Regions from separate parts of the Homo sapiens genome. Here region 2 is linked to region 1. Evidence: fine-mapped expression QTL. A gene starts in region 1. The other region holds a variant in brackets. All regions are shown on one strand. Distances are from middle to middle.

Evidence for each region. PIP is the estimated chance that this variant, and not a neighbour inherited with it, causes the effect.
Region 2: its variant is fine-mapped to the expression of CHRM2 in fibroblasts (GTEx, PIP above 0.99).

Annotation. Positions count from the first base shown.
Region 1 is chr7:136,864,309-136,874,564 of GRCh38, reverse strand. CHRM2 (cholinergic receptor muscarinic 2) reads right to left here and starts at 5,913. Exons shown (of 4, transcript NM_001006630.2): 1 at 5,573-5,913; 2 at 5,147-5,304. RefSeq lists an enhancer at 4,472-5,234.
Region 2 is chr7:136,948,293-136,958,548 of GRCh38, reverse strand. All of the region lies in intron 2 of CHRM2 (cholinergic receptor muscarinic 2), which reads right to left. All of the region lies in intron 2 of LOC349160 (a long non-coding RNA gene), which reads left to right. Among named protein-coding and RNA genes, the nearest start is that of MIR490, 50 kb to the right of the region's middle. The variant T/A (reference allele first, on the strand shown) is at 4,901.

The DNA.
Region 1 (10,256 bases):
AGAGAGAGGGAGGGCATGGGGGAAGACAGAGAAAAAAAAGAGAGACAGAAGGAATTCCATTACTAATGAAAGAAAATGAGAAAACTGAGTTTTTAGTGTGTACCCTTATCTACCATGAAACATTACCATGGTAACAGCACCAGTTAAGATGATTGTATATTTAGGTCATAGTATAAAAGAAGGAGCTAGAACATGTGAAGAAAAAAAAAGAGAAATAAATAAAGTAAGACAAAGATATATAAAGAGTGGAAAGAGGCAAACCAACTGGAACCTACCTCATTCTTTGCTAATAGCAGTTTACAAAGTAACATTATACTTTTCAAAGCACATGTGGATAATAAATACTAATTAAAAGTAAATGGGGCCATTGAAATTCAGAATCTTAAGTGCCAACAATCTTATAGAAAAAGAGAACTCATTTAGCATGAAAAAATGGAGAGACAACTAGACTGGGATTGGGATGTGTGTGTTCTTATGCAGTTCTTGGTTAGCTGTGTCACCTTGAAAAAGTCTCTTGATCTGCTTCCTATCATGAACTCAGCTGAATGATATCAAAATTATCTTTTATTACTATGCATCAGACAAAAGAACTTCTGTTTAATAATGTCTTAGTATTGCTGAGAGGTGAAAATGGCATCTGCCAAAATTTTGGTGCCCTCGTTTACCTCTGCCAGAGGCAATCACTGACTAAACAAGACAAGCACGTGCCAACTAAGAGCCTACTCAGCACTGCCTCTTCTTTGCTTAAGGTTTGGAGGATCTAACAAAAACATGCAAAGTTGTATTAACAGATGGGGAGAACATCATTGAACTTCTGAATGCCATGGTTTTGTTTTCCCCAAACACAGGGAAAACAAGTGCCACAACTATTTATAGCGAACCGATTGACACACTATAAGAACTAAGACAGTGGAGTCCAACAAGCTTGTGTTTGAATCCAGGGGCTGCAACTTACTAGCTGTATGATCTCGGGTCATTACCAGACCCCTCTGAATGCTGATTTCTTCCTGTAGAAAATAACATCTACTACATAGGATTGTTGCAAAGATAAAATGAGAAAATTGATTGCTGTATTAACTCATTCAAAAGAGATTTAATATGTTTCTTAGGTATGCCTGGCTGTATTTTAAGCAGTGAGGCTAAAGCAACTGACAAAACAGAAAATATCATATGGGAAGATGCTTAGAATAATGCCAAGGACTTAGAATACACACAGCAAAAATACCTGCCTAAGGAAAGGTGACTTGCATCTCTTTCCCCACATACCACCTCCACCACATAGGCCAGGTGAGCTGTGGGATATGCAATCAGTATACTTATGCCATTTATCTTAAATGAGAGAAGTCCTGATGCCTGCTCAATGAACCAAAGGTGGACAGAGTGGGTACAGGAAGCAAAAGCCAGTTGTTAGTAGTCACAAGGTGGACATTGGTGGCTTTCGATACATAGGAGTCTCTTGGGAACTATGCCACGGAGAGTCCATGTCATAAAATCTCAAGCAAGTCAAATATAAGTTTAAATAAAGAAAACCAATTCTTCAAGAGAACTGTGTGGCAAAATGTTTCTGTCAGTCTCTGTCCTATTGAGTAAAGTGGGAAAAGTTTAAGACAGGATTGAGAATGGTGTCTGGGTGATCTTGTGAAGATAATAGAAAGGGTTCGCTCACATGCATATTCTAAACAAAGGCTGACATCAGTGATGGAGGTTGAATCCAGCACGATTATTGATATACCTACAGATTCTTGTCCTCATTTTTCTCTCTCCCATTCCGTCTTCATTTCCCTTTTGTTCTAATTTCTTCTCTTCTCCCTCTTTTGTACTTGTTTTAACTTTACTCATTGTTGTGGGTCAGAGAGACATAGGACTCCTAATTAGCCAGCCTAACTTCCATTGAAGACAGTGTCATTCATGCTTTTTGTGCCTTCCCTACCTGCCAGCAGTCTGGGACTGTTTTCTTTGGATCTCTGAAACCACCCATTCCTATTGGCCCTGGGGAATGGCTGCTCTGGAATTGGAATTGGAAAATTGTCCAGTAAAGACACATCTGGATGCTTGACTATCTGGACTTTCTGGGCAATGAAGGCGATAGGGTCAAATTTAGAGCAATATGTGTTTTTGTTTGTTTGTTTTTTAACATGAAGACAACAGTCTCAGCCTCCCAAAATTGAAGGACCATGGGAACTCACTCCAAAGGGACTTTTACCAGTATTTCACCTGCTAGTTCTTTCCACATCTGACTCTGAAGTTAGTTGAGAGCTGAAAACATGCTCTTTGGGTTCCCTTTTACTGGAACTATGACAGTATTCAAATCCACCTATTTGCTCACTCCAATTTGCCTCCAGGCACCCTCAAGCACCCTTCTACAAACAAACATGCCTCTTTATTTTATAGGAAAATGAAGCATCTTTCAGACAGTCTAGCCCTGGGAATTTGGAGTCCCAAAACTTTCCCCCATTCCCACCCCACCTCATTCACAGAGCTTTATTTTAAAATGGTAAACAGATTTGGCTGGAGTTCTCACCTCTTTTTAGGGTCAGGTTAAATTTTTTAAGTTTTAATTGGCATTATTGTCTAGCCCAGGAAAGCAAATAGAGTCAATAGGAAGTTGCTTATCCATTGTATTGCTGCAACTGGAACACATTTTGATAATAGTAGTAACAATAATAATTCACCTGGCATTAATTTGTTACTTCTGAGTCCTCAGCTGCCAAGCCTGCAAAGCTGGGACATTGTTGGCACAAAATTCTTCCATTCGTTTGACAAGTCTCAAAAGTCCACTTTCTGAACTGCAGCCGAATACAGTTCCCAGCTTAAAATTGTCTCTTGGCCAAGTCAATTGTTCTTACTCCTGTGATCATCAGTGCCTTTATTATTAGCTCCCCAACAATGGCACAGGTATGCCTGTTTGTGGCTTCTGTTTAAAAATACCATCATCTCTTTTTTTCTTATCAATGAAAATGCATATATTTCCTATCATATGGTTGCGCATATTTACCGATTGCTCACAAAGTGCAATGCGCGGCCTTTGCCGCACAATCCCGAGTTCCTTACTCTGGAGTTTATTAAAAGCTTCATTTTGAGAGCCCTCTCATTGGGAGACGCCAGGATTGCCAGAAGCGAACAGAAGCGCTGGCGCATCCCAGCACCAGGCATCGAACTTCCCTGGGCAGCATGGAGAAAAGCTGCCGCCCGCGGGTGGGCTCCTGGCGGGGACGCCCAGCGGCGGGGCGGGGCGAGACGCGGGCGGCCTGCAGCGCTGCAGCCGCAGGAGCCCTCAGGGCTCCGCACAGCCCGGCCCGTTTTCCCCAGAGACTCCCTCCCCTCATGCCTAACCCCAATTCCAGTTTTCCTCAGGCCTTTCGGGTTGCCCCAGGGTTTCTCTCTGGAGTCTAGGCTGACTTCCCCTCTCCACCCGCAGAGCCCTGCGTGGGCCATGGCCATGACCCTGGCGGTGGCTGCAGGCGTCCCGGGCTGTGGAGCAGGGGCTGCGCGCCGGACCGCTGGAGGGTGTGTGGCACAGCGTGGGGACTGGTCGCTGTGTGCTTGTGTCGCTGGCTGCGTGTACTAGGGGATGGGCAAATCACACGGCTGCCGCATACCCACTGCCACCCAGCGCTAAGAAAAGAGCAGGAAAAGCAAAACAAACAAAAAAGAAAAGAAGACAGGGAAATAGAAAGTCGATGTGGGGGATTCCGGAGCTTGAGGAGTGGGAGGCGCCGCGCTCTTCTTGGCTCGCGGCGCCTGGGCTGGCAGACTTGGAGCCCTGGGTGGCCGCAGTCACAGACGTGCTGTGGCGGTGAACTGACTTAAAGACGCGGGAGGGCGGCCTGGGTGAAATGTCCACCGACAGTTCTGCTGGCTTTACGCGTTTACCTCCAATTCTCTGTTCTCCTCCAGCCTCTCTGCCCCTGGCGAACCTCCCTGCTGGTATTTCCGTACATGCAAGAGCCTTGGCATCATCGCCAGGGACTGGCGGGTCGGTGGACTCAGCCTGGGACAATTCTGTATCTCAGGGCAGCCTCGAGGACGGCAATGGGCAGGAAGATAGAGAAAGGGATGCGGATGCTGGAGGCGGACGGAGGCAAAGGGTGTGCCGCCGTGTGTGTCAATAATTCTGGGGAATTTTCACCTCTCCCAGATGAGTCTCTACTTACCCCGTGAGGGGCCCCAGGGGCGCCGGGCAGCGCGCACAGGTGGAATTTCTGCGCGTCTACCGGCACCAGGCATGGACCGCACCTGTCCGTGTCCGAGAGCTACAAGTTAGCGGCGATTGCCTGGGACCTCAGGTGCGGACTCCAAGGGACATTGCGGGCGGGGAGGGGTGCAGCGGTCCCCAGTCTACGACCCCGGGGACTGCCCGGGCGGTTCAGGACCCATTGTGAGTTAGGTGGCGAAGCCCAGGCACTGTCTGGTACCTCATGAGCTTCGGGCTGAGACCTTGTCCCCCAGCCACGGCGGACAGTCCAGCTCCTGCGCGGGGCTCAAATAGGATGGGATTGCAGAATGCTTCCCTCTCCTTTGTCTTGGGACCCTTTCCCCCATTCTAATTGCTTCTCCTCCTTGGCCATGACCTGGAGACCGCAATGGGAAACCTCTCCAGCGCCCAAGGGCTGCTCCGAAAGCGGAGCCGGGGGACAGCTCGGAGCCCGAGCGAGCCGGGCCTCCATCCCACACGCACAGAAGACGCGGTCAGACCCCAGCAGGAAGGAACCCGAGGGGCGGGAGGGACGAAGCTCTCCTTGTCTTGTCCATGGCTGCATCTGGAGTGGGTGGCGGGAGGGGGGTCAGCAACAGTAGAGGGAATGGGGGGCTGGAATAGGGAGCGACGCCGGGACAGCGCAGCTCCCAGGCTGCTTTCGCCACATTCGGCTGGACTCAGTGACCGTCGGAATCGTAGGGGTACCTCGCCTCGCGCTGTGCCTCGTTTGCCCCTTCCTTTCAGACCCGCCATCACTGCTCGCAACCCTCCAAGCCCCAGGATCCAAAGTTTCCGTTTGAGAATCTGCACGTGGGGAGGACCTCCCTCCAATTCCCCCAAGCCCCGACCCCTGAGCCTCCGGCTTGGGGGGATATGAAGGGAGAGACCCCCTGGTGCCAGGGCCCTTGGAGTGGGTAAGCGGAGAGCTGCACAGCGCGGGGCCCTTACCTGTCGCTGGTTTCGCTCCAGTTGCCTCCCCGGCTGCGAGGTGGTGGAGGCTTGAAGGAGCGAGGAGTCCTTTGTGGGTTCAGGGCCGATCCGCTCGGGCTGGAGCTGCGCACCGCTTAGAGTCCGAGGCCAGCTGCCGGTTCTCTTTCTCCCTTGATCTTGCAAAAGAAAAGGAAAAGATTAGTTGATGCCGAGACACTGTAGGGGTGGGGCGGGAGAGGCGGGAGAGGCGGGAGAGAACCGACCCCAAGGCTCTGGCGAGAGCTGCGGGGCTGGCGCGCGCGCAGGCAGAGTCACGCACCCCACACTCGTCTCAGCCACTTGGCTAGTCTGTGACCTGTTCGTGGTTTAGACTGGAGTTAAATTGACGCTGCCCCCGCCCTCCACGCCAAACCACTAAAGGAGAAGCAAACAAGACTTTCAAACCTGGCTTTCACGAAGAGCCTGGAGACCAAAATAGAATGGAGACCTGGATGCCTCGGCGAGCTGGGCTGGATTCATTTCTTCACCAAAGTGCTTGGGGAAGTAGGAATTAGTTTTGGGAGGCAACACCTATTCGGGTACCTCGGCGATTTCCTGGTGAAATCTGCGATTTCCAGGCTCTGGCCAACCCGCAGCCTGGAGTGTGTGAGTGTGTGTGTGTCTGTGTGTGTGTGTGTGTGTGTGTGTGTGCCCGCGCGCGCTCCCTAGGTCTTTGCGCCCTGGCGCCTTTAGTACAGCAGGAGAGCGTGTCTGTATTCGTGCGTGTGTGTTCGATTAGCTGCAATGGGCGGACAATTTCTGGAGAGAACATTTACAATTTTCTTTCAGTATGACAGGATTAGTTGCTGTTGAAGGCGCTCCTCCAATGAAATCTTCTGTGCTCTCTGATTTGGCGGTTCTTCTGAGCAAATATGACAGCCGTTTCTCCAGGCTCTTTTTCGCTTCTCTCCATTTCCATCCCCAGAGCCCAGCTCTCCATCTGCAATTTCTACATCAGAACCACCCCCAACCCCGAGTCCCTTCCCTGCAAGTGTGTGAGTGCTACAAAGGTGACATGGCATATTGGGAAGAACGCAGTATTGCTTTTTGTTTGTCGGAGATACTTAAGCCCAGTTTTTCCAGGTGGGAAAATGTTAGACTAAATCCACTATGCTTTGTAAATATATAATTGTGCTGAACTATTCACAGATTGTTTATTTCTTTGGAGCTTTGACAAATGTATCCGAAGGAGAAGTAATTTTTTTCTCTTACTTTAAATATGAGCCAGTGACCATGTTTTCTTCAGCTAATGGGCAGTAGACTACAGAATATATCTATATCTATATCTGTATCTATATCTATATTCAGAATATGTGTATATCCAGAATATATATATCTAGAATATATATATATATGTCCAGGATATATATATCCAGAATATATAGATATATATATCCAGAATATATATATATATATCCAGAATATATATATATATATCCAGAATATATATATATATCCAGAATATATATATATCCAGAATATATATATATATATATGTCCAGGATATATATATCCAGAATATATATATATATATATATATATATATATATATGTCCAGGATATATATATCCAGAATATATATATATATATCCAGAATATATATATATATATATGTCCAGGATATATATATCCAGAATATATATATATATGTCCAGGATATATATATCCAGAATATATATATGTCCAGAATATATATATATCCAGAAAATATATATATATCCAGAAAATATATATATATATCTCAAAAATATATATATATATATCTCTCTCAAAAAAAAAAATATATATATATATATATATCTCCAGAATATATATATGTTTGATGCTTCAGGGAATTTGTGATCTCCATGAAAAAAGATTTAGGATGCAAACTTTCTGTGTTCAGACCTGCCTTTGATGTTTATTTCTTTATTTTAATGAGAAATTTCTGCCAATAATTGTATCTATTATTTTTAGATACTAACCTCATTTGATAAAAGTACAATGATAGGATTCTAAAGTGTAGCTTAGGCCAAAACTTGCTTTTGTAAAAGCATATGTGTATGTGAATATAACATCAATATATTATATATTACATAGGCTTTATTTTCTCTCATCCAACTTCAATCAAATAAAGAGCAAGAAGTGGAAACCTTAAATTGAATAGCCCAGAATTGGACACATCACTTTTTGGGTCACAGGGATAGACAAAGAGCAAGTTAAAGATACATTGATATAATATAATATAGTCAATTAAATTCAGTTCAGTTCTTGACGTCCAGGGTTTTGCTAGGTATTAAAGGCCATCCACAAGAGCAAAAACCACTGTCCCTGTGTTTTTATAAGCTTCTATTCCTATTGACAAGAAAAGACACTTCATTTGAAACATCTATGTAACAGTTGACAATCCAATGATTAATTTTATAGCAATGTAAATTTATTGATAAATGGAAATGCTGTAGCTGAAAGTTTCTGCCCTTTTTGTTAACTCATAGCTATCACCAAGCAGGACTTGACACAAAGTTGATTTTGCTTGATTGAAGTCATCCTAAAATGCAGCATTACAATACTGTGTCTCTGCCTTCAACCTCCATACTTACATCCCACCATCACTGGGTGATTATAAGATACCTGTGAGAAAATCAAAACAGCCCTGCTAAGTCTTGTTCTCAGCCTCTCCCAGCATTTGTTCCACTACATTAAATATCTGATTTTGTCATCTCTCCTCTCTTAGACACTCTTTTCAGAATGAATTCACATTTTCCTTTTTTACTCCATTATTTCTGTCTACTGAGCCTCCATAAACCCATGAAGCTGCTTGAGTCTTTTGGAACACACACACAGACACACACCCATCAAAGCAAAAAAGTGAGGAGAAATAGATCCCTGGCCAGCAATAGACAGGAAAACCCAGTGATTTGTTACTTTTTTGTTCCTTTACATCATTAAGAACACTAAGCCCCCTTTTACTAATAAAGCTGCACATTCCAAAATGAGCAACCAAATAAATAACCAATGAAGGCAAACGAATATTTTTCTTAAACCTCAATAAAACAGAGTCTATGTGTGACTGAAGTGCTATGTTTAATAGAAGTCAGTATACTTAAGGCCTTTTGGAGAGGAGTTGCACAGGGAAGCATCATTTTTAGCCAACGGTCATCAATTATGTCCATTTTCTTTTTCTAGGTCATCACTTAGAACACATCTTTATATAGACTTGTAACTCTGCCATTCACTGTGATTTTAGGGAAGTTGTTTAACTTTTCTTTGCCTCAGCTTCTTAAACCATAAAATGGGTATAGCATACATGTCGGGGTTGGTAGGAGGGATAATGGAAGTAATTCATGTGAAATTCTTAAAAGAGCATGTGACACATAGCAAATTGCTATAAATATAACATTGTCGGTCAAGACTGAAAAATACAGTTTCTTGGGTCACACCTGTGACCTCTGAAACAGAGTATTAAGGAGTGATTCTTGACAATGCAAACCATAATGCTCATCACCATCATATAATTAACAAGATAAACATAATCCATCAGCATTCTGACCCCAGGGAACTTAATTCTTTTCTTCTTCTAGTTGCTGTTTCCATACAAGAAATGATCATGTGTATTCTGAGTGTTTTATTTTAATCTCTTAAGCCAGTTCGTTTTCTGAGGAAAAAAAAAAGAATACTCCCCACCCAAGGAATATAGCATTTATATGATTAGTAACTCTTGGTGTGGAACATTTTCGTTTGTCTGTTTTTCGTGAGATGGAGTCTCACTCCGTCGCCCAGGCTGGAGTGCAGTAGCATGATCTTGGGCTCACTGCAACCTCTGACTCCCAGGTTCAAGCAGTTCTACTGCCTCAGCCTCCCAAGTAGCTGGGATTACAGGCACCTGCCACTGCGCCCAGCTATTTTTGTATTTTTTGTAGATACGGCGTTTCACCGTGTTGGCCAGGCTGGTCTCGAATTCCTGACCTCAAGTGATCAGACTGCCTCGGCCTCCGAAAGTGCTGGGATTACAGGCGTGAGCCACCGTGCCGGCTGGTGTGGAACATTTTCAAAACTGCTTTTTAAATACTTTGTAAAATGCATCTATGAGATTTTTTTTTTAATCTACATTCCTCTTTTCCACCTCAAGGAACTCTAATAAATTAGTAATTTCTACTTATTAAGCCAAACTTCATTACATATAACCTTCAGACACACACTGAAGAGCTCTCAATGCCTGTGAAGGGTGACTTTGAATCTTTGACAAAGCTTTCGTTTGAATAAGATTATAAATAAGGTCACCACTAACATGAGAAGAAGGGGAAGCACAGGTCTCATTCCTGGGAGTGTGGCGCATATTTAACATGCCACATTGATTTCACTGCAGCAATAATTAGGCTTCAATAATTAGATGCACAAATCAGCACTCTATCATCATAAGTGGATTAAGAGGGTGACAAGTTCAACTCCAGTGATTTCCCACCAGGTATGGCAGTCATAACATTTTTAAAATTTTTTTTCTATTTTCAAGGAACCAAGAAAATGAAGTTGAGGGCTTTGCCTATATTGGGAAAATGAGCCAAGAGCAGATCTTGCCTTGTCCTTCATCTTCTACTCACACAGACTGTTTAAGAGTTAAATCAGGGAAGCACCGTATTTATCAGCAGGAGCTTTGGAAAAGGTGGGCTGATTTATCTGATGGATGCCAAAGAAACCTTTCTTTTCCTTGACCTCAGTTTGAAATATAACAATCCTGGGTTAAAAGTAGATCTCCGCTAAATGACAATCACTACTTACAATGGGTTCTTCAATTGTCTCTTACTGTTTTGAAATCTTAATAATGGTTTCATAATACACACATTATTCTTCCTAGAATTATTTATTTTTTCCTACAGACCTTCCCAGAGAGTAATTTAAAAGCTTCTATTCTTTAGCTTAAAAAGATGATCTGTTTTTATTCTAGAAAATCCTGAGCTTTTCTTTTTCAGACCCTGCAATTGAAGTTTTCATATACAAATAGGACTGATTCTGAGGGATAATGTTTAGTGACAGTGTGACAAACAATGCTTTGTTATTTTTTTTCTTTTCCACGAAGTTTGGCATCACAGATGTTTTCAACTCTTTTCTCTCA
Region 2 (10,256 bases), 84 kb before region 1:
GGGAGGTAGAGGTGGCAGTGAGCTGTAATCGCCCCACTGCACTCCAGCCTGGGCAACAGAATAAAACGCTGTCTCAGAAAAAAAAAAAAAAAAAAAAAAAGATGACACTGCTTCTTCATTTTACAATAGATGTAAGAATTACAATAGATGTAAGAAGTACAATAGAAAATAGAAGTGAATAAAATAAAGTGCCCACAGGCTCCCATCATGGTATTCAAAGAGCTGCAAGTACCAGAGCCCAACCACTCTGCCCTCGCTGCTGCTATCATGGATGAAGTCATTGTGTCTAAGCTAAAGACAATGTCTCTTCTTGTTCACTGGATTCCTTCTTCTCTTACCAACTCTAAGATGTTGCCTTCTTATCTATTCCACCAGCTGTTCTCTTCCCTCTCAACTGGCTCATTTCCGTTAGCATAAAAATGTGCTGGTAATAATTTGCCAAATTCTCATTAGAAAATTAAAAATTTGAAAAATGGCACCAGTGTAATCAGTTTCAAACTATGTTTCCAAATGGAATAGATTACATAATATCAAGCAGCCACTATGAGTCATTGTTATTTTTCAAAATCAGATGATCAAATGGTAAATATTTAGTTTTTAAACTTCTAGCTTAATTTATAAAGTGTCAAATTTCAGTTTGATATTCTTAGTGAATTGATTTAAAAACTTTTGAATTGATAAAACGTTTTGACTAATTATAGATGTGGCTTCAATAAAAAGTTTTATGTTTTATTCTAGATATGAAGATTTTCTATGCAATAGTTACTGAGATGTCATAATATTTAAAATTTGTTTAGAGAACTCTACAGAACATTTAACATGTTCAGGAAAAATAGCAACTTGTAAACTGAGGGGTGAATACACAATAGATATGTTTATACAATATAGAGACACACAGTGCTGGTATGTACCTTGTGGCTTTTTCAGATACATGTCATCCCATAAATACTCTGTTTGTCAGAGATCCCAACTCGTCTCTCGAGTGTCACTGAGTAATAGTCAAAAAGAATAAGCTGGTATTTTTATAATCTTATGGATGTCATTGCACAGCAAATAAATAGACTGTCATTATCTTTTGTGGGTTTATGTGTTTGTCAGCTTGTTTAACATTTCCAGTTTATTTGCACAAGCTTCAAACCAATAAGTCAACAACTTGAAAATCAGAATGCACTGAATATTTTGCCAATAGTTAACAGTTCCTTAGTTGGTTCCTAGTTTCTTCATTAATGGAGCTATTCTAGAAAATACACACATACATGTGTGCATGTGCACACACACACACACACACACACATATACACTATGACACCTGTTATGTTGATAGGAGTGGGCTGCCCCCAAAAGATGTACTGAACAAAGCACAGAAATTGCCATCCAAATCCTTGGCCTCCTGCCGCAGGTTAGTTCCTGACTTACTGTGCTGCCTTTCCAGCACAAAGTGAAGTGGGGTTTTGCCACTTGGTCTGTAGAGTCAGTCATCCAAGAGGATTGTCAATCCAGGCCAAAACACACCTCCATTAGGCATCTCTGAGGGGCCTTGGAGTAGGGGGAGTCCCGCCAGCTTTCTTGAACAGTGAGTCCCAGGGCTAACCTCACATTATGTCACATGTAGCCTTCAAGCGTGTTTGCTAAGGAGTCAGCGGGAAGAGAGGTCCTCACCCTATTGCATTACACTTCCTCTGGTAAATGGGTGTAATAATAAGAGAGAGAGGAAAAAAAAAACCTTCATATGATCCCATTCCCCCTCCCTGTTCCCTGTCTGCATTGATTTGTTGCTTTAGTTGACACTAAAATATCTTCTTGGCAACTGACTATACAGCTACAGACAAAGGGATTTGAGTTGAGGCTAATATGTCAGCAGTCACCATTTATTTATTTAATAATGAAGGATAACATTTGAATGCTCTAACAATAAAAAAGTATACCAGTAATTTTCAAATCCTCTGGGTAGAGGAAGTGTGGAAATGTGGGTAGAGGCTTCCTGTCTTCTTTTGCAACTGATGCCCCATTTGTATCTGTTTTACATATTGATGTTCAGTAATGGAGGATTCAAAAACCAGGTCTATTTTCAATCCAGGCTTCCTGTTGCTATCTATACCCACTAATCTTAGGTCAGAGTGAAGCATTTTTTCTAGATGACTAAGAGTTGACATTTCCCCTTAAACAGTACATTTATATTAAGGCTCATCTAGAAAACAGTTCAAACAGAAAATAAATAGTACATTAAAAAGAATGTATAAAAACCAAGGAGGAATCAAAACAAAAAGACCGCTGACTAACAATTCTTTCTTGCTCTCTCATAAAGTCCATATTTTATATTCCATGCCATTCCAAAGTCCTGAAATAACTCCATCCTTCTGTGAGATCACCTTGTTTGTCTTGTTCAAAATTATTTTTAAATTTTATTCTCTATGTTGTAATATGATACAATTATAGTATCTCTCTTTTCCCCTATTAAAAATATACATCAGAGTGAACTGGAATCTAATATTTTTCCTTCTGAGTTACTTCTAACTCTGGGAGTAGTATAAGGATGAGGGAAGTTACTCAGTAAATATCAGTTGAAACATTACTACCATTTATTCAAGTAGAATAAAATATATTAAAAATAAACAAAAAACCCTCATTATATGTGCAGACAACAAGTAGTTAATGAGCATATGGTGATTTATAACACTTTGCATAAATAATGTATGCTTAAGATGCCAAGTTGAAATTCAGGCATCAAGAGAACAGACCTTTATTACTTTTTATCAACTTCATTTTATGATAATATTTTTCAAAAATTAGTACTAAAGGGCATAGAGAATGCTCCAGACTTAAATGTGTGAAGATAGTTATTCCAAAATTCTGCAAAACCAACTGCCTAGACCAATGACCATACGTCCTAGTATACTCCAACTGCTTGGAAGGGCAAAGGGTGCCTCCTTAAGCACAGAGAGACAAAGGCCAGGACATTCCTTTTGAAATGAATGGCCAAGCTGGACTATGTTCTGTCATGGCCATGGATACAGAGCTCATCCAACTCATGGCTGGAATTTGACGAATAATAGGTGACAGTGCATAAGGTTGAATGTATCCCATCTTATTCTACTATTAGAATTGGCACTTTACCATTGGGAAATAATTAGGAGCCAGGTAGAATGTGAAAACCCGAGGACAAGAGTATTCCAAGGAAGTAAACAAATGCTAAGTTGAAGCCCCAGAGTAATAGTACTAAAGGTGCCATTTTCACTCATAACATTATTATTCAGATCAGCAGCATGCTTCATAAGAATTGAGTTATTTAATGCACTAATATGAATGGATTATAAAATACTTTGGCTAGTAAAGGAAGCAGTCAGGATGCATTTCAAAATCATGAGAAAGAAGGAGGAGAGGTGAATATTTTACTCAAAAGGAGTTGCCCAATGTGAAAGAAAACACGAACTTTTAAAACTCTTTTACGGCTCATTTATCCTACCATCTACAACACAACTATGCGAGAATGTCCTTAAGAAACCAAGAAAGGAAAGTGCAGCACTTAGGGTATAGTACTAGTAGGGGTATTAATACCATTAGGCCCAAAGTGGGAAGAGGAGGGGATTCCTGGAACCAGGAATATAGGTCTGTGTTGAGGAATGTCTGCCAAGAGCTGTGGTCTTTAGCAGAGGGAGGCAACAATCTATAGTGATCTCCCAGAAGGGGTAGTGAGGTTATGAATATCTTAATCCAACTGTCCTCTTGTCTCTTGATCATCTTCTGATGCTTCCCATTGGTTGAACCCAACTGGCAGCTACGAGGATGGAAGAATCCATGGATGTAGTCAAGATCATTCAGCTTCCTGGGCTCCAATCACAGTTAAAGAGTGGAGAATAAAATACATCCAGTGCCCCTACCTTTTCAAAAGTCTTTCATATTTTTTCTGTATTTTGATCTTTCTACATTGTTTATAGTTCCATGAACTCACTGTTCATGAGGGAGAAATAAACAGAAAGGGAGTTCAGGTAGAGAATCCATTGAATATGAAGAGGAGACATGCAAGGTTTGTCAACAGAAATAAAATAAACTATGTTATTAAGTTTAGAAGATAATCTACAATTTAGTAAGATCTTAGAGAAAGACAGGTAATATGGAGGAAGAAATCGACAGAATCATGAAATAACTTACTTTCTTTTGATCCTAAAAATGAGATGAGGATAACATGTGGAGAGAATGGTGAAAGTTTGAGATTTCACACAAAGCTAAACACATGTGTGTACCTACTTTATTTGCTCAGACAACAGACCACCAACTTTTTAAAATAATGGCATTGTGGAGGGGAAAAATACACACATATATAAATGTATAGGTATAGGTATATGCATATGTATATAATGCATATGTATGTGTATAAAGAATGAGGAGAGAAGAATCTAGATGGCCTTGGATCATTTCCTCTTCCCTTTTGGTAGCTTATCAAGGTGTCAGCTCACTCTTACCTCAAAGGAAGAACACAAAGTTCTGGACTGATATAAGCATCTGAGCCCTGGAGGCTCTTCTCATAATAAACAGGCCATTCCTCTACCTAGATTCATAGTCCACCAGTCCAGCTCTGGCCCAAGATCTCCTCTCACCATGGTAAGAGGATGGATAGGAAAATGTCCTAATGCATGTGCCAGTCAGAGGCAGTGCTGTGCTGCTTGGATTAGTCTTCTTGCCTCCATGGTTAGTGTTGCTGGACCTTCTCTGAGGACAAGTGGGGTACAACTAGGAGCCAACAGATACTGCCTTTCTGATGCTGCATTGCCTTCTCCTGTTGTGCTTTGTCCGTCTGAAATATATTTGTTTTTTTTTTTCATTAAATTTTAAGGCATAGGATGCCTGCTCTGCATAAGAAATTTTTGGTTTGCATGTCTGTTTCAGCCACTGTCTATGAGCTC[T/A]CGGAGGAAAAAGTCACATCCATCTTTTTCATCTTCACTGCCTGTCAGTAGAATGCACGTAACAGGCATTCAGTGAATGTTTGTTGAATGAGTAATTTGGCATGTGGCATAACTTAATGTCCCATGGCTGTGAAATTTTACTAACTATGGGTTTCTAAGGATAGACAAAATAAATTAAAGTACTCATATGACTTAAGATATTTGTGATTTTGGAAAATCATAGAAAACATAGACCAGAAAAATCTATCTATACACTTAATAGCGTTTTGGTAATTTATAGAGGATCAGGACTCTACTGAGGTCTCTGAAGGGTCCATTTGTCACTACCAGAAATTTACAGTTATTAATATTCACAAGTAACATAGGGGTAGTGGGGCACTTAGATGCTCAGTCTCTAAACAGTCAGACTGTATATTAATTTTACTGATGTGAAACAATACAAAGTGGAACAAAAAACAGAGCCAGTCTACAAGTCTATCAAAAGATGTCTGACAGTGTGGCGATTCCTCAAAGACCTAAAGACAGAAATACGATTCAACCCAAGAATACCATTACTGGGTATATACCCAAAGGAATACAAATAGTTCTATCATAAAGACACATGCACATTTATGCTCATTACAGCATTATTCACCATAGTAAAGACATGGAATCAACCTAAATGCCCATAATGATAGACTGAATAAAGAAAATGCAGTATATATAAACCATGGAATACTATGCAGCCATAAAAAAGAACGAGATCATGTCCTTTGCATGGACATGAATCCAACATGAAACTAGAGGCCATTATCCTTAGCAAACTAACACAGAAACAGAAAACCAAATACCTTATGTTCTTACTCATAAGTGGGAGCTAAGTGATAGGAACACATGAACACATAGAGGGAGCAACATATACGGGGGCCTATTGGAGGGTTCTGGGTCAGAGGAAGAAGAGGATCAGGAAAAACAACTAATGGGTATTAGGCTTAATACCTGGGTGATGAAATAATCTACAGTGAACCCCCGTGACACAAGTTTATCTATGCAAAAAACCTGCACATGTACCCCTGAACTTAAAAAAAAAAGTTTTAAAAAAGATGTCTGAGAGGCAGTTTCCTAAAGTAGAAACTCAGTCATCATGGGTAGAGAACAGCAGTGTAGAAGTCAGACGACCAGAACTTCATGACTGAAGTACATAAACAATTTGAACAATGCCACTGGTTCTCAATTTCTCATTTGTGAATTGACAGAGCTGGATAATAAGATCTTCGATACGCTTTAAATAAGTCTATAAATCAATAAAGCAATTAGAAGAATAATAGAAGAAGAAAGGAGAAAAATGAGGAAATAAGAGGGAAATTAAAATACTGCTTTTAACAGAATGTTTTGCACTCTGTAGTGAGAGAACATGGCATAGTTATAAATATATTTTATGTCATCATATTAGAAACGCATAATTATTTGTCCTGTTCCAAATGTTGGAAAGGTATTGTGGATATCTTCAAAGCTCTTTTCTCTCTCCACGTATGCACAAGCCCTCGAATCTACTTCTGCCCTTGTCGAAGTGGGACCAATAAGTTGTGTTCTGCTCCCACCCTAAAGATCTGGAATTTCAGTTTAGCATTTGAGGGTCTAGGGCGACAAATCCTGTACATATAACAGGGAAGTAATCTAAACCTGCTTGTGGATAAGAGATGCCCCAAAGATACTATTTTCTCCTCAATCTGAAAACAACTGAAGAAAGAAGAGAGAGAAAAGAGCAGGAAGAAAATATGGGTGCCAGGACCTGGAAAACCTATAGCAGGAGGAAAGGCAAAGAATGCATGTAGATTAAAGGTTGCCATTTCAGTAGAAAAACAGGTCTCTTCTCACTAGTCAATTCACCATACCATACAAGGAAAGTGATCCAGTGCTTACAGTGACGAATGTGGAGGGTGGGAAGGAGCCAATGAAAGAATGAATAAATTCACTGAAATATTGTATTTGTGTAAGTTTCTTCTATCCCAGATCCCAAGTTATTCTTTCCGGATATCATTAGGAAAGGACAGCGAATCATCCCTTTTCATCCTCTTCCCATATGCCAACCCCTCACTCCCTCTTTTCTTATTTGCAATCAGAGAGGGAAGAATGCAGATCTGCCAAGTGCGTTATAAATACTGTGAAACAAAAGGGACGTAAGCTGCAGTTATAGAACCTACAGCTGGTCAGCAAAGCCAGGCTCTCTAGCAAGTCATATTTTATTATTTTCTTCGCCAAGTGTCATTTCTCTAGTGCCTATTATATATCTTACACAAGGTTTCACATCAAATCTACATTCACCCCCACCTTTCTCCAGACTGGGAGGTGCTGTGCTGGTGGTTGCTTTACAACAAATTCTATGTATCTTCAAAATTGACAGGGTTTCTTTGTCATCCATGTGCCTGGCACCTTTTGCCTCATTTCTATTAAAAGAATGAAGCTGAAGTAACAAGAACCATTCGAGCTGGATATTCCACATGGTCTTATGCAAGTAGCTTCACCCAGGGGGCCTCCTCTGTTTGAGAATGAGTCTCAGGGAATGGAGGCCATGTCGGGCTGGCTCACCTATGTATTCCCAGTGCTTTTGGAGACTGAGGCAGGAGGATCACTTGAGGCCAGGAGTATAAGATCAGCCTGGACAACCTAGGCAATATGCAAAAAAATAAAAAAAATTAGCCGGACATGGTGGCATGTGCCTGTAGTTCTAGATACTCCAGAGGCTGAGGCAGGAGGATCACTTGAGCCCAGGCTGCAGTGAGCCATGTTTTTGCCACAGTATTGTAACCTGAGATACAGAGCAAGATTCTCTCTCTCGAAACAACAACAACAACAACAACAACAACAACAACAACAACAACAACAGGTTGGGGGTTCATGCTATTCTGTAAAAGCACTGGACTTGTTCAGTCCTGGTTCAGAATCTTCTACCAATTTGCTACGCTACTTTTTGCAACTTCTTCATCTGTTTTTATTTTCTTTTTCTTTTTTTGTTGTTTTTAGCTTGAGGACTGAAATCCAACTTTATTTATTCATTTACATCGTTCACTGGAATTTTTATTGCAATTTCAATTCCTACAGTGGATGGTTTTGAGATTGGGGACTTTCCACAGAATGCTAAATTCCTTCACAGATGTGGGAAAGCCTCAGGCACCATCCATTTCCTGGCAAATAACCCCCACTCCTCTGAACTGAAGACAGGTATCATGGGAGGTTCCATGGAAGCCTGTCATTGCCTCAACTACCCTGATCCCCACTCCCACCCCCATCCCGCAGGGACAGGAGCATCCTGGAGGGGGATCCATCCCCATTATGATTTGTATCTCTATTGTCCTACAGGGACCTTTTGCCTCCCAGAACCCACACTTGTCCTGATGAGGAACGAGGGCACTTCGTCTTCTTGATGCAAACTCTACATTTAATGAGATGATCTTAATAAAAAGAACAATCACCCCAATAGAAAAATGAGCAAAAATCCCCACAAACAGGAGAGAAAATATTTATGACCAATAAAAAAGAGATGTTTAGTTTAATTAGTAATCAGATTATTAGTCAGAAAAATGCAAGTGAAGACCACCATGAGGTATCATTTTACTCCCACTAGAGAGGCAATAACAACAAAATATTATAATACCAGATGATGGAAAGAATGTGAATAAATGTGATCCTGTCTACATTGCTGGAGAAATTTTCCCCTGTGGAAAACAGTTTGGTCTTATCTCATGAAGGTGAATAGTTATAATTTTGTACCTACTAATTCCTTAGAGCGCAGGCTTATGCTATAGAAAAACCATTATGTTTGAATCTAATAAATAAGTAAGGTGGAGCTTGCAGTGAGCCGAGATCGCGCCACTGCACTCCAGCCTGGGCAACACAGCAAGACTCTGTCTCCAAAAAAAAAAAAAATCAAATACTGTTTTAAAAAGTTGATGTTATTGCTACTTTTTCAAGATAAAGAAATATAAATTATTTGACTCATATAGAGCAAGTATACCTCCAGAGCCAGATGGGAATTCTTTTCAATACAGGATCTTGTTCTATCACCCAGGCTGGAATGCAGTGGCACAATCATAACTTATTTCATCCTTGAACTCCTAGGCTCCAGCAATCCTCCCACCTCAGCCTCCAAAGTAGCTAGGACTGCAAGTGCACACCACCATGCCTGGCTGATTTTTTTTTTTTTTTTTTTAGTTTTGCAGAGACAGGGTCTTGTTATGTTGCCCAATCTGGTCTTGAACTCCTGGCCTCAAGTGATCCTCCCACCTCAGCTTCCCAAAGTACTGGGATTACAGGTGTGAATCATAGTGCCCAGCTGGAGTTTTATATTAAGCACTTGCTGACATTAATAATTATGGAAGAAATATTTCGCCTCTCTGAGTTTCTGTGTCTTCATCTTTTAAAAAATGAAGCTACTTATCTCTAAATTTTGGAGTTTGTAATGAAGATTAAATAATTTATCTGTAGTGTATTAAATATTAGTTTCTGATTCCTTTTCCTTCTATATTACAGGCCTCTTTGCAATGAGCCACTAAGAAAACAAAGGCCATCTATCCAAGGACACCGCCTAGTGTCTTTGTGTGACTAGCACAGATACATATTTGGTTTGCTGTTCTAGATAGGTAATAACATCTTGCTGTTTGTTCTTGATGTCCTTCTATCACGCCCCCTTCATTCCACCTTGATTGCCTTCCATAGCTGCACTACCTTCCCTTCTTGTTCTGAAATGTCTGTGGATCCACTCTGAACTGACTTGATGCTATTTCCCATTCCCAAGGATGCTTCCCTCTCAGATGATCAACAGGAGACTGCTTACTGCCTCACTCTCTGTTCACCAGAGGAGCTGTGGTGGAAGAGAAGACTCATTTCTTTTTTATCAACAGGAGACTGCTTACTGCCTCACTCTCTGTTCACCAGAGGAGCTGTGGTGGAAGAAAGGACTCATTTCTTTTTTATTGTTCAAGCTATTTCCTAACCAAATAGAAACAAACCTGACATTCATGCCTATTTAATCCTACCTCCTCTGCCACATAGCCAAATCCGTGGTCACCCAGTCACTTTCACAACATTTTGGCTCTGGACTCATGATACTCTTCCACACTTCTGATTCCGCTAAGTGCTTGGTTGACTTAAATGTCCTCACAGTTAACCCATGAAATGTCCTAAACTAAGATTTTTGTGACCTCTTCAACTTTGCCCTCACTTCCGCTCATTTCCAGTGATCCACTCCCATTGGCACAAGTTTGGCCTACTTACTATAAATCAGAATTATTCTATCCTTGAAATCTTAAACTTTAATATTCTACTTTATGACTTCAATTTAGTTTTCCAGCTCACCACCTTTCTTTCTTCCAACATC